Linked DNA regions of Homo sapiens. The protein of the gene in region 1 purifies or fractionates together with the protein of each later gene. This does not show direct contact. Each region holds a gene or a part of one and is shown on either strand. Other genes may lie near its edges.

Region 1 (3,751 bases):
TCATCGCACTCCAGCCTGGACAAAAAGAGCGAAACTTAATCTCAAAAAAAAAAAAAAAAGTTCCATAAGTTTAGTAAAGTAAAAGATTTAGTAGCAAAACGATACTAATTTGAACACACTAAACTTCCCAGAATTTCTTTATCTTCCAATTCAAGACTTAACATAAGTCTGACAAAAGCTCTCTGGTGAACAAGAAATCTAGGTATTTAGGGCAATCAAACAACTAATACTTTATTTCACAGGAATGTTTACCAACCCAAATATATTAGTTCCACAGAAATTAGATGTTTAAAAATGTAGTCACATTCAAAGAGAAAAAATATATAACAGAAAGTATTCTCAATTATGCCAACATACAAAAAAATTCTATTAGCCTTTATTGTGTTTTTTTTTTTTTTTTTTTTTTTTTTTTCAGAGACAGAGTCTCCCTCTGTCGCCCAGACTGGAGTGCAATGGTGTGATCTTGGCTCACTGCAACCTCTGCCTCCCAGGTTCAAGTGATTCTCCCGCCTTGGCCTCCCAAGTAACTGGGACGGCACCCACCATCATGCCTGGCTAATTTTTGTAGAGACAGGGTTTCTCCATGTTGGCCAGGCTGGTCTTGAACTCCTGACCTCAGGTGATCTGCCCACCTCAGCCTCCCAAAGTGCTGGGATTGCAGGCGTGAGCCACCGCGCCCGGCCCTGCGCTTTTATATTCACAAAAACAGAGATTAAAAAAAATCTTGGTAAAAATGAATTACAGGGCTTGCTATGTAAAAAGCACCCCTATACAAACTTTCTCAAACAGCTCTAATGCAAATTATCTAATATCGTTATCTTTAAAGTAACCAAATCTTCCAAGTTATAATTTTACAACTTTCATCCTCAAATTACCACATCTATTAATGCCATCAATCTAAAAACCAATTAGTTTCCTTCCAACTTTAGAGATAAGCACTGAGCAGATGAATATATCACTCCCTAAAACTACTGAACATTTTTAACATCCAGTTTTCTGGTTTGCAGAGTTATACAAGAAAAGGCCTTTGAGGAAGAATGAATTTCATCTTAAATCTACTGAAAGCCCTAATATAGTTAATAACTTGAACTGATTAAATATTTATGAAAACAGGACACTGCGTGTAGTTTTTCATAATGGCCACCTGTTTGGAAATGTTAATTCTGTGGGTTAGGGTATCACAGGCCACCTGGTAGTACAAAATAAGAGCAAATACCTTTTCCTTAGTTTTCCAAAGCCTTTCTGAAATGCTTTATATTAAAGCACATAAGTGTGGGGCTTGGGGTGGGGGAGTTTCAACCATACAGAAAAATGCTATCTTTCATATTGTCACCTACTACACAGTTTTAAACTGTTTCAAACTATACCAGAGCACACTTAATAGTTTTATGTTACAATAGTCCTTAGTATAGTTTTATGTTACAATAGTCCTTAGTGTGTTTCAGCATAGAAACATCAGAGGTTTTAACATAATTAATACTGAGAAGTTTAATTTCTACCACAAATTGAATTAATACCTTTAAGATATAAAGGTAAAACACTGCCAAAATTTTGGCAATAACTCTACCAAATTTTCTTCTCTGTGTCAGAGTCTAGCTTTCTGACAGTAAATTATCAACTAAACTTCCCTTATACGATCAGATGTAAGAAACGCTTTGATTTTCCAAATATGTTTTTCTTCAGTAATATTATCAGTAAATCCTAGATTCCTTAATTAAGATAAATCAATATAAAATTTTACCTAAAACATAGAAGAAACTTCATTCCTTCAAAACAGGCACTTTGTAAACATTTACCTAGAAAATATTTTTGTAACTACCAAAAATGGTAAATATCCTATAGTTTTTATAATTTAAAGAGCATATAAATGAACCATGGAGCACTAAGACTACATATTAATTTGCAAAACTTCTAGACCTATACTAATACATTTTATGCAACTTATTTGAGTCTATGTAAGTCTAAATTGCTATGAATATTTATAGTTACTACTGAAGTATTCTTCTCAAATAATCAAAACATTTCAAACTGAGATAAAATGGACTAAAAGGCCTACAACTCAAGATACCTAAAGTGATTCCTTAAGAAAAACATTCTAATTATTTGTATTAACTAATTTTAGTTACCAGTTACAAAAATTGAAAAAGGATAATAAGATAAAGCATAGGAGTGAGAAATGCTAAATTAAAGGTGGGACCATAAACAATTTTTCGCTCAAATAATTTTCCAGACTGTAAGTTCCTTGCTATGAGTGCTGACACATAAAACAGGAAGCACAATAGGCATCTCTTATATGATTCAAATTACAAACTGCTTTATTAAGAGCCAGCTAAATACTTTCATTTTCTCTTATTAGTCCACCATATTATGCAGCCAGTTCAGGTCTACGGCATCTGATTTTAAAATGCCAGAATAAAGTTTATGCTTCTTTAACTGTCATATATGTATACATCATTTTACAATTCTCTTAATAAAAATGTAAACCTTAGGGCTTAGTTCTTCTAATTAAAACCATTGTTTTCATTCTTGTTAACCTATGTGAGGAATATAAGCTACTGAAATGGACTGTCACAGTACTTCCCCGTTTAGAAAACTTAAAAATAATTAGTTTTGTTCTTAAAAAATGATATTTAAAGCATAAGCACAATTTGGATCTCTAGCTAAAAGACAAGTAAAAACCAAAACAGCAATGGAAACAACCTGTAAGCTAGAAACTCAGTACTGGAGAAAAAGGAATTGAATTGCAATTTAAAAGACTGCTATAATATGTGATTTTGCCGTTAACGTGTGAAGTATATATGACTCAAATTTTACTTCTTAAATACACTATGTGGTTGAACTGTTTTAAAATAAATATTAGATATAACTTCCAATGCATTCTTTTTTTTTTTTTTTTTTTTGAGATGGAGGAGTCTCACTCTGTTGCCTAGGCTGGAGTGCGGTGGTGCGATTTCGGCTCACTGCAACCTCCGCCTCCCGGTTTCATACGATTCTCCTGCCTCAGCCTCCTGAGTAGCTGGGATTACAAGTGCGCACCACCATGCCCGGTTAATTTTTGTATTTTTAGTAGAGACAGGGTTTCACCTGTGGGTCAGGCTGATCTCAAACTCCTGACCTCGTGATCTGCCCACCTTGGCCTCCCAAAGTCCTGGGATTACAGGCATGAGCCTCGGCGCCCAGTCTCAATGCATTCTAATAGGGCAATAATGAGATAACTACTTCTTTTTTTTTTTTTTTTTTGAGACGGAGTTTCGCTCTTGTTGCCCAGGCTGTAGTGCAATGGCGCGATCTCGGCTCACTGCAACCTCCGTCTCCCGGGTTCAAGCGATTCTCCTGCCTCAGCCTCCGGAGTAGCTGGGATTACAGGCATGCGCCACCAGGCCCAGCTAATTTTTTGTAATTTTAGTAGAGATGGGGTTTATCCATGTTGGTCAGGCTGGTCTCGAACTCCTGACCTCAGGTGATCCACCCGCCTCAGCCTTCCAAAGTGCTGGGATTACAGGCGTGAGCCACCGCGCCCAGCCAACTTTCTATTTTAACAAGTATAACTAATATTAGTGATGACGAGAAAAATACTTTCTTTGAGATAGAACTTACTTCTGCCTATCAAATCATAGCCAATGGATAACTTCATCCTTCATATTACCAAAGTCCTTAGCTCTTTAATTATTCTGATTGTAACAGGATAATCTATCTGGAAGTTTTGGGTTTTTATACATCTACTTTTATTCCACTAACATATTTCTTGGAA
Region 2 (3,751 bases), on another chromosome or scaffold:
TTTCCCATTTTTACCCTAACCTCATTTCTAACAGTTCAGCACAATGATAAACTTTAGTTTTAAGTTCCTGTAATAATATACATGTTTAAGCCTTAAGAAAGGGGTCGCGATGTTTTTGACCCTTATTTTACTTCCTATCAAATAGATTGCCTTACAGATGAATTTCTTACCCTGCAGAATGGGTTTAAACTGTGCTTAACAGCTTTAGTTTTTGTGAGATTAACAGATTGTGAAAAATAAACTTAGCCAAATCTCATGTGAGGATTAAAAAAAGCGATGTCCCAGATAAGTCAATGTGACACTAAAGATCTAAACAATTTTTTTTAACTTTTAAGTTTTTTATCAAATTTCAGCACCCAGCAAATAATAGGCACTGTTAATATTTGCTTAATATAACGTAGCTGTGAATTTTTGCCCACATTTAGGCGGACGGGAAAATTAACGCCAGAATATCCCGAAAGTCAAATTTTGTCATCTTACACTTAGGAAGTTACGTTAAAAAATTCTCAAGTCTCGTAGTATTTTTCTTAAGCGCAATTTGGGAATTTCCAGTTACCTCGTGGTTTCCGTCATCAGGTTCTTGGCAAAGATTGCAATACAGTAGTTTTAGAACTATATTAACTAGGTATTCCATTAACTAGGTAAAAACCACTCGACTGACCTCGTGGTCAAATTCCTTACTAGTGCTGCTACTGACTTAATATGACCCTAGCAACCAACACTTTTCTGCCTCAGTTTCCGTCTGAGAAAGAGAGTTAATACCTACCTCAAGCAAAGTTCCACTAACTTATATATTTCAAGTGTTTTGTAACCTGCAGATGAAAAGTCAGCTGTAAATATTAATATAGTTATATCACAATATTTCCTTTTACAAATGTAAGTGAAAATAACTACTTCGAGCTCCATCATTTGCTCATAGAGAGAAATAAAATAAAAAGTTATCAGTAAAATGCTGAATCTTTTGTTAAACCTTTCTCGTAGGCCACGCGGCACGATCCAGGATTTAAAGGCTCGCGATACATCTACTTGGTAACCTTCCCCCTTCCCCTCCCCCACTTTTTACATGTAAGAAGAACGGAGGTAATAGAAGGCATCGGCGCTACGTTAACTTCGACTATATTAATGAGCATCACGATCTTCATTTTCATGATCCCGTAGTCCTCGCGGTCGTAGAAAATGAAAGGAAAGCAGCCGTTAACACAGGAAGAGCGAAAAAAGGACATTTTCCCTGGCGATCGTGGCCTAGAGGACACCAGGTTAAACCTATACAGAGGCTGAGGCCTATAAAACTGCCCCCGGCTTCAACCTAATCCCCCAAAACAAGCAGAATAAATGAGGGCCCGGTTAGTTAGGGGGAAGGATTCCCACATCTTCTCTCCCACACCCCCTCTCGCTTCCCGAAAAACCCAGCGCCTTCCCTGCGTCCGCCCTCTCCACTTACCAAGAAGGGGAGGGAGAAGAGATTCGATTCTGAGTCTCCTACTCCCGGGTTCTGCGTAGAGAAGCCGACTGCTGCTGGAGGTCGGCAACGCGGCCACAACCGCTCAGTCTTCGTCTCTTCACAAAATGGCCCCCGAGTCTCCTCTGCCGCCGAGGCGAAGGCCTAGTCCCCGCCCCATTCCTGAGAATCTTCCTATTGGCTGTGCGTTTTTTCGCTCCCGCTCCTAATTAGACAGTTCAACCGCTCCTCACAATGATATCCAATCACAATTAGCAGTGGGTTAGACTAAGCAGGCGAATTTCCACATGCGTGAGAGAAACTAGTTTATAACTGGTTAGTTTTCCTGTCATTTATTGCCTGGAGAATGCTTATTGGCTATTGCACGGGACGACCCTCTGGGTGGAAACTCGCCTTTGTATCGCGCACCGTCTCACATCCGGGTATCTGGGAGGCCTGATTGGCGGCCGCGGCGTCCTATCGCTGCCCCTTAGAGTGCCTAGTAGAAGATCCGCCCAGACCTCGGATTTCCGGCTGCGCGGGGGCGGGGAAAGGGTTGAGGGGCGTAGTTAGGTGACGGGCGCAAAAGACCTGCCCCAGCCCCGGGCCTAGGGAAAAAAAAGCGCGAAATGAAGCCTCCGTTGTGCAATGTGAATAAAGAAAGGACTTTTCTTAAAATGAGGAGGGAGCAGCAGTGACTAGGCCTTGTTAAAGTGTGTAGAAAACTAACCAGTCCTGCAGTTTTTCCAACCCCAGACCCTTTCTCAGTTCCAGATTCGAATGTCAGCTACCTCGTAGACATCTGCTTCTTGGCCTATTAAACCCTTCTTCAGACAACACATGTTCCATCGAAACCAACTGACTTCCTTATTCCTCTCCAATATAAAAAGGAAGTGCAGAATCCTGGCCTCTGGCCCCAGGGCATCTAATATCTTAAGTGCCAGCAAAATTGGCCCATCCTTCCAAATCTGGTCCCTTAATTTCCCTCCTCTTGAAATGGCTTGTCTCCTACCTACCCCCGTCACCTGCCAGTCTCTCTGGTTACATTATAGGAACTGCGCACGCAGTGGGGTAGCATCAGCTCTACTAAGCCAGCGGTTTCTTTTTTCTTTTCTTTTTTTTTTTTTTTTTTTTTTTTTTTTGAGGCAGAGTCACTGTCGCCCAGGCTGGAGTGCAGTGGCGCGATCTTGGCTCACTGCAACCTCCGCCTCCCGGGTTCAAGCGATTTTCCTGCCTCAGCCTCCTGAGTAGCTGGAACTACAGGTGCGCGCCACCATGTCCAGCTAATTTTTGTATTTTTAGTACAGATGGGGTTTCGCCATGTTGGCCAGACTGTTCAGGTGATCCGCCCGCCTCTGCCTCCCAAAGTGATAAGATTATAGGCGTGAGCCACCACGCCAGACCACTTTAAACTATTTTAAAAAGCAAAGACGAAAAATATGGGAGAAAGTATACACTAAAGTGTTAGTAGTGGTTCTCTCCTGGTGGGAAAATTACATGTGATTTTTTTTTTTAACTTTTTTTTTTTCAAACGGAGTCTCGCTTTGTCACCAGCCTGGAGTGTAGTGGCGCCATCTTGGCTCACTGCAACCTCCGCCTCCTAGGTTCAAGCGATTCTCCTGCCTCAGCCTCCCGAGTAGCTGGAACTACAGGTGCGTGCCACCACGCCCAGCTAATTTTTGTATTTTTAGTAGAGACGGGGTTTCACCATGTTGGCCAGGATGGTCTCCATCTCTTGACCTCGTGATCCGCCCGCCTCAGCCTTCCTAAGTGCTGGGATTACAGGCGTGACCCACCGCGCCCAGCCTTAAAATCTTATTGTACTTTTCTATATTTTCCAAATCATCTACTTTGAGCAAGTAATCAGAGGGAGAATATCCTACGAGTGCTTAAAGCCTCGACTCAATTGCCACATTGCAATTTATTTAAAATTATCTCGTAGCACTGTGGGTAGTTTTACACTCCTCTCCCTTCCTGGATGGTAAGATTTTTTGATGGCAGAGTTTAATTCTTACTCTTCAATATATTTTCCTTGTTTACTACCTATTAATAAATTAATAAAATATTAACCATTAACTTTTATTTATCAGGGGAAATTTTTATTTTTCCAGGACAAGCAGATAGACTGTCCTTTTTTTCTCTCTCTTTCTTTTGAGATGAGGTCTTGTTCTGTTGCCCAGGCTGTAGTGCATTGGCATAATCCCGGATGATTACAGCTTCAACCACCCAGTCGCAAGCAATCCTCCCACCTCAGCCTCTGGAGTAGCTGAGACCACAGGTGTGCACCACCACATTGGCTAATTTTATTTTTAT
Region 3 (3,751 bases), on another chromosome or scaffold:
TGTTAAAGGTAAAATCTTCAAAATAAAAACCAGTTCCTAAAAACACCAAGACTTCCTCCCCAACCCCCAGTCTTTCTGTTTAGATGTCAGACATGGGGTGTGTGTGTTTTGGGTCGGGGGAAACGTTAACAGCCATTTGAAGTTGTGGCCCAGAATTTAAGTCAGCCCCAGGGTGACTCTGGAAGAGAGTCTAGGGATATGCAACACTGACAATGGTGGGATAGAGGGGCTTCCATATTCCAATTTCAAAGGATTCCAACAAAGACCAAAGTCTAAGGTCATAAAAATGACATATTCCTTAATAGAATCAAAATACATCATTACACAGCAATGAAAATGCTAAACAGCAAAGCCTGAGTTTATTCTACACATCAAAGCTTTCATGCAGGTTTTTTTTTTTTTTTTTTTTCTGGAGACGGACTCTCGCTCTGTTGCCAGGCTGAAGTGCAGTCATGTGATCTCAGCTCACTGCAACCTCCGCCTCCCGGGTTCAAGCAATTCTCCTGCCTCAGCCTCTTGAGTAACTGGGATTACAGGCGTGCGCCACCACGCCCGGCTAATTGTTTTATTTTTAGTAGAGATGGGGTTTCACCATGTTGGCCAGGATGGTCTCAAACTCCTGACCTTGTGATCCGCCCACCTCGGCCTCCCAAAGTGCTGGGATTACAGGCGTGAGCCACCGTGCCTGGCCTCTCCACCTTTTTTGCATCTATCAATGCCCCTAGCTCTCTAGCAGCAGCTGTGCAAACACCAGGAGGGCCCAAAGGGGTCTTGGTAAGACACTTTTCAGGGCACTGCGGCAGTGCTATGGTCCCGTGGTCAGGAGACCTGCAGCCTGTCAGTAACTGACAGTGTGACCTTGAGCAAGATCAACTCTCTGGCTTGCCTCCTCTTATCAAATGGCACAACTATTTCAGCTTAGAAGGTTGTTGTCAGGTTACAATGAAAAAGCATAATGACTTTTTAAAAAATGACTCAACTTGATAAAAATACAAAATACTGCCTTTATTCAAAATGAGGCAGAGATGAATAAGGAGGGAATTTTGTCCCAGTTAAATATTTATTCCATTTAAACTACTCAAAGTCCAGTTGTCCCAATAATTAATAATTTTCACTTCCCCAAACCACCAAGCAAGGTGCACTGTCATTCTCACCTGCGGGACCTATGTTTCCCATTCCGATGCCTTTATTCAGGTGATTGGCATCAATGGGTTGCCCTCCTGGTCCTAACCCCATGCCAATACCACCAAGGCCATCTGGAAAGAAAAGAGAAAGAAGCTTAGTTTTCCCCTATTTAGCAAACCTTGACCCTCAAAGGAAAAGAGTGTTTAGTGAGTTGCAGCTATCCACTTCAGCCTACCCACCCCCACCCACCAGTGACCTCAGGGCCCAATGCAAAATTCAACATCGGCACACTTGGAAACAGAGCCTTGTTCCGGCGTTTGGGATATGTGTGTATACAACAAAGGCGGCTGAAAACCAACACGGGAAAGTTAACAACCCCCACACTAAGATTCTTGAGAGCCTATTTGTTTCACTAACCCATGGACTGAGAACTGTCTGATCAAAAAAGGTGACTCAAGACATCAGGTGGCAAGCAGCACAAATGTGCCCAATCCCTAGTAGCCCAAAGGATGTTTCTCATGAAAAAACACGTTACAAACCAGCCAATCAACATCCTGGGTGTCCACTACTCTCTGAATCTGGGTGGTTTTAGTAACAATGAAGCTAATGTATGTATTCAAAGAACCTATCTTCCTTCCCCCAAAGCTTCCCAACCCACAACTGGATACCCAGCCCACACTCAACTCCATGCCCTACCAACACAGACAGGGACACAGAAATACAGGCTGGTCTCTGGAAACAGCCAAAAGAGCTGACACTTGCAATATCTGGGGTAACCACCATCTGAGGCTTAAACTACAACCAGGTAAGCTTTTAAAAATCGTAACAAGGGCAGGCGCAGTGGCTCACGCCTGAAATCCCAGCACTTTGGGAGGCCAAGGCGGGTGGATCACGTGAGGTCAGGAGTTCGAGACCATCCTGGCCAACATGGCAAAACCCCATCTCTACTAAAAAAAAAAAAAAATTAGCCTGGCATGGTGGCACATGCCTGTAATCGCTGCTACTTGGAAGGCTGACAGGAGAATCACTAGAACCCAGGAAATGGAGGTTGCAGCAAGCCAAGACCGCACCACTGCACTCCAGCCTGGGCGACAGAGCGAGACTCCATCAAAAAGAAAGAAAAAGGAAGAAAGGAAGGAAAGAAAGCAAACAAAGTTCATTTAAAAAGTAAATAAAACCTGCCACCACTTCCCAGGCGTTTCATCTGATGAACATTCCATCTTTAATTGCATAGCAACAGCAGCAAGAGATCGCCACGGTGACTTACTCTCCCAAAGCACTGAAGGCTTTGAAGTCAAGCCTCCGAAATGGCCGGGAGACCAAGAGCCATGGATAACAGGCTCCCTGGAGCAGTGTGCTCCTCCTCCTGCTCCAGCACAAGAGTCAACAAGAGCCATCGCCATGGTCCAGGGTGACCACTGCTCAGGTGAGCACACTGACAATTTATTTGGGAAATGAGTATGTTATGTCCAGGAAATGCAATCCTTCTCTAACTAATGTTGCCTTTCAACAGATGAGCCTTCTCATGAAGCCACAGATTTCCCTTCAAGATACATCTGTCATGCTGCCATAATGCTACGCTGCAAAGGTGCTCTGGCCTGGGCTCCCATCCAACTCAGTGAGTAGGGCCCTGAGCTTGAGCTGCTGCTCCAGACCAGGCCCCCTCAACCCGCCTGGTGGAGGTCACCCCAGCACAGCACACACAGGCCTCTCACCCTCATCCATCTTTCTTCTCCAGGAGAGCTTTACCTGCGCCAGTGATTCCCTGAGTCGTCCCACCGCTGTATGCACTGAGGTTCTTGCTTCCAGCCTCTGGCTTATCTATGACTCTGCACTAATATTTGCCACTTCTACCTATGTGGTAGCCCATCAACTAGCCTTCCCTGTCACGAGACAGATTTTCACCTGGGTGTCACAAATAGCTGATCCCTTTCCCCTCTGCATACAAATTATTTGTTCAAGACACTTCACATACCATAAAACTCAAAGTATTCGGTGGTTTTTAGTATATTCAGAGATATGCAACTATCACTACCATTTAATTCCAGAACATTTTCATCACCCAAAAAAGAAATCCAACCTTATTAGCAGTCCCGTCCCTACTTACTCCTTCCCGGCCTCAGGCAACCACTAATCTACTTTCTGCCTTTATGCATTTATCTATGCGGAGCATTTCCTGTAGATGAAATCGAGGTTCATCCACACTGCAGCATGTGTCTTTCATCCTGCTGCAAACATCTGCGTGCGAATTTCTGTGCAGATGTCTAGTGTGCACTGCTAGCCCACATGGGACTAACCAGTATCTTCTGAATTAGAGTGCAGCCTGGTTTTCATTCCCTTCACAGGTTCTGATTCTTCCTTCCCCAGGACACTTTCAAAATGCCTAACCACATCCTCTACATCCTGGTATTACAATCCTAGGATTACCATGAGGTAATCCTAACAATATCCTCAAGTTGTGAATCTCTGCTCATTTCTCACCCTGAAAAATCTATAGAAAAGAACTGGCCAAGAGAACTGAGGGCTAACCTGGCACAGGTTCAAGTGAAACCATATGGTAATTTTCTGTTTATTAGTGTAACTCCAATTCAAACTCTCAGCCCTAATCACTGAAACACTTACGGGG

The links.
Region 2: the proteins of RC3H2 (region 1) and HNRNPC purify together in Homo sapiens (affinity purification with mass spectrometry, with the first as the bait; 2 studies listed by BioGRID). This does not show direct contact.
Region 3: the proteins of RC3H2 (region 1) and HNRNPM purify together in Homo sapiens (affinity purification with mass spectrometry, with the first as the bait; 2 studies listed by BioGRID). This does not show direct contact.

What each region holds. Positions count from the first base shown.
Region 1 is NC_000009.12:122,898,707-122,902,457, forward strand, and holds part of RC3H2 (roquin-2), read right to left. Parts: intron 1-3,751. UniProt on the Homo sapiens protein: Post-transcriptional repressor of mRNAs containing a conserved stem loop motif, called constitutive decay element (CDE), which is often located in the 3'-UTR, as in HMGXB3, ICOS, IER3, NFKBID, NFKBIZ, PPP1R10, TNF and in many more mRNAs.
Region 2 is NC_000014.9:21,267,857-21,271,607, forward strand, and holds the start of HNRNPC (heterogeneous nuclear ribonucleoproteins C1/C2), read right to left. Parts: upstream 1,587-3,751; 5' UTR 1,442-1,586; intron 813-1,441; exon of another isoform or gene 1-812. UniProt on the Homo sapiens protein: Binds pre-mRNA and nucleates the assembly of 40S hnRNP particles. Interacts with poly-U tracts in the 3'-UTR or 5'-UTR of mRNA and modulates the stability and the level of translation of bound mRNA molecules. Single HNRNPC tetramers bind 230-240 nucleotides.
Region 3 is NC_000019.10:8,468,831-8,472,581, reverse strand, and holds part of HNRNPM (heterogeneous nuclear ribonucleoprotein M), read right to left. Parts: coding exon 3,748-3,751; intron 1,257-3,747; coding exon 1,155-1,256; intron 1-1,154. UniProt on the Homo sapiens protein: Pre-mRNA binding protein in vivo, binds avidly to poly(G) and poly(U) RNA homopolymers in vitro. Involved in splicing.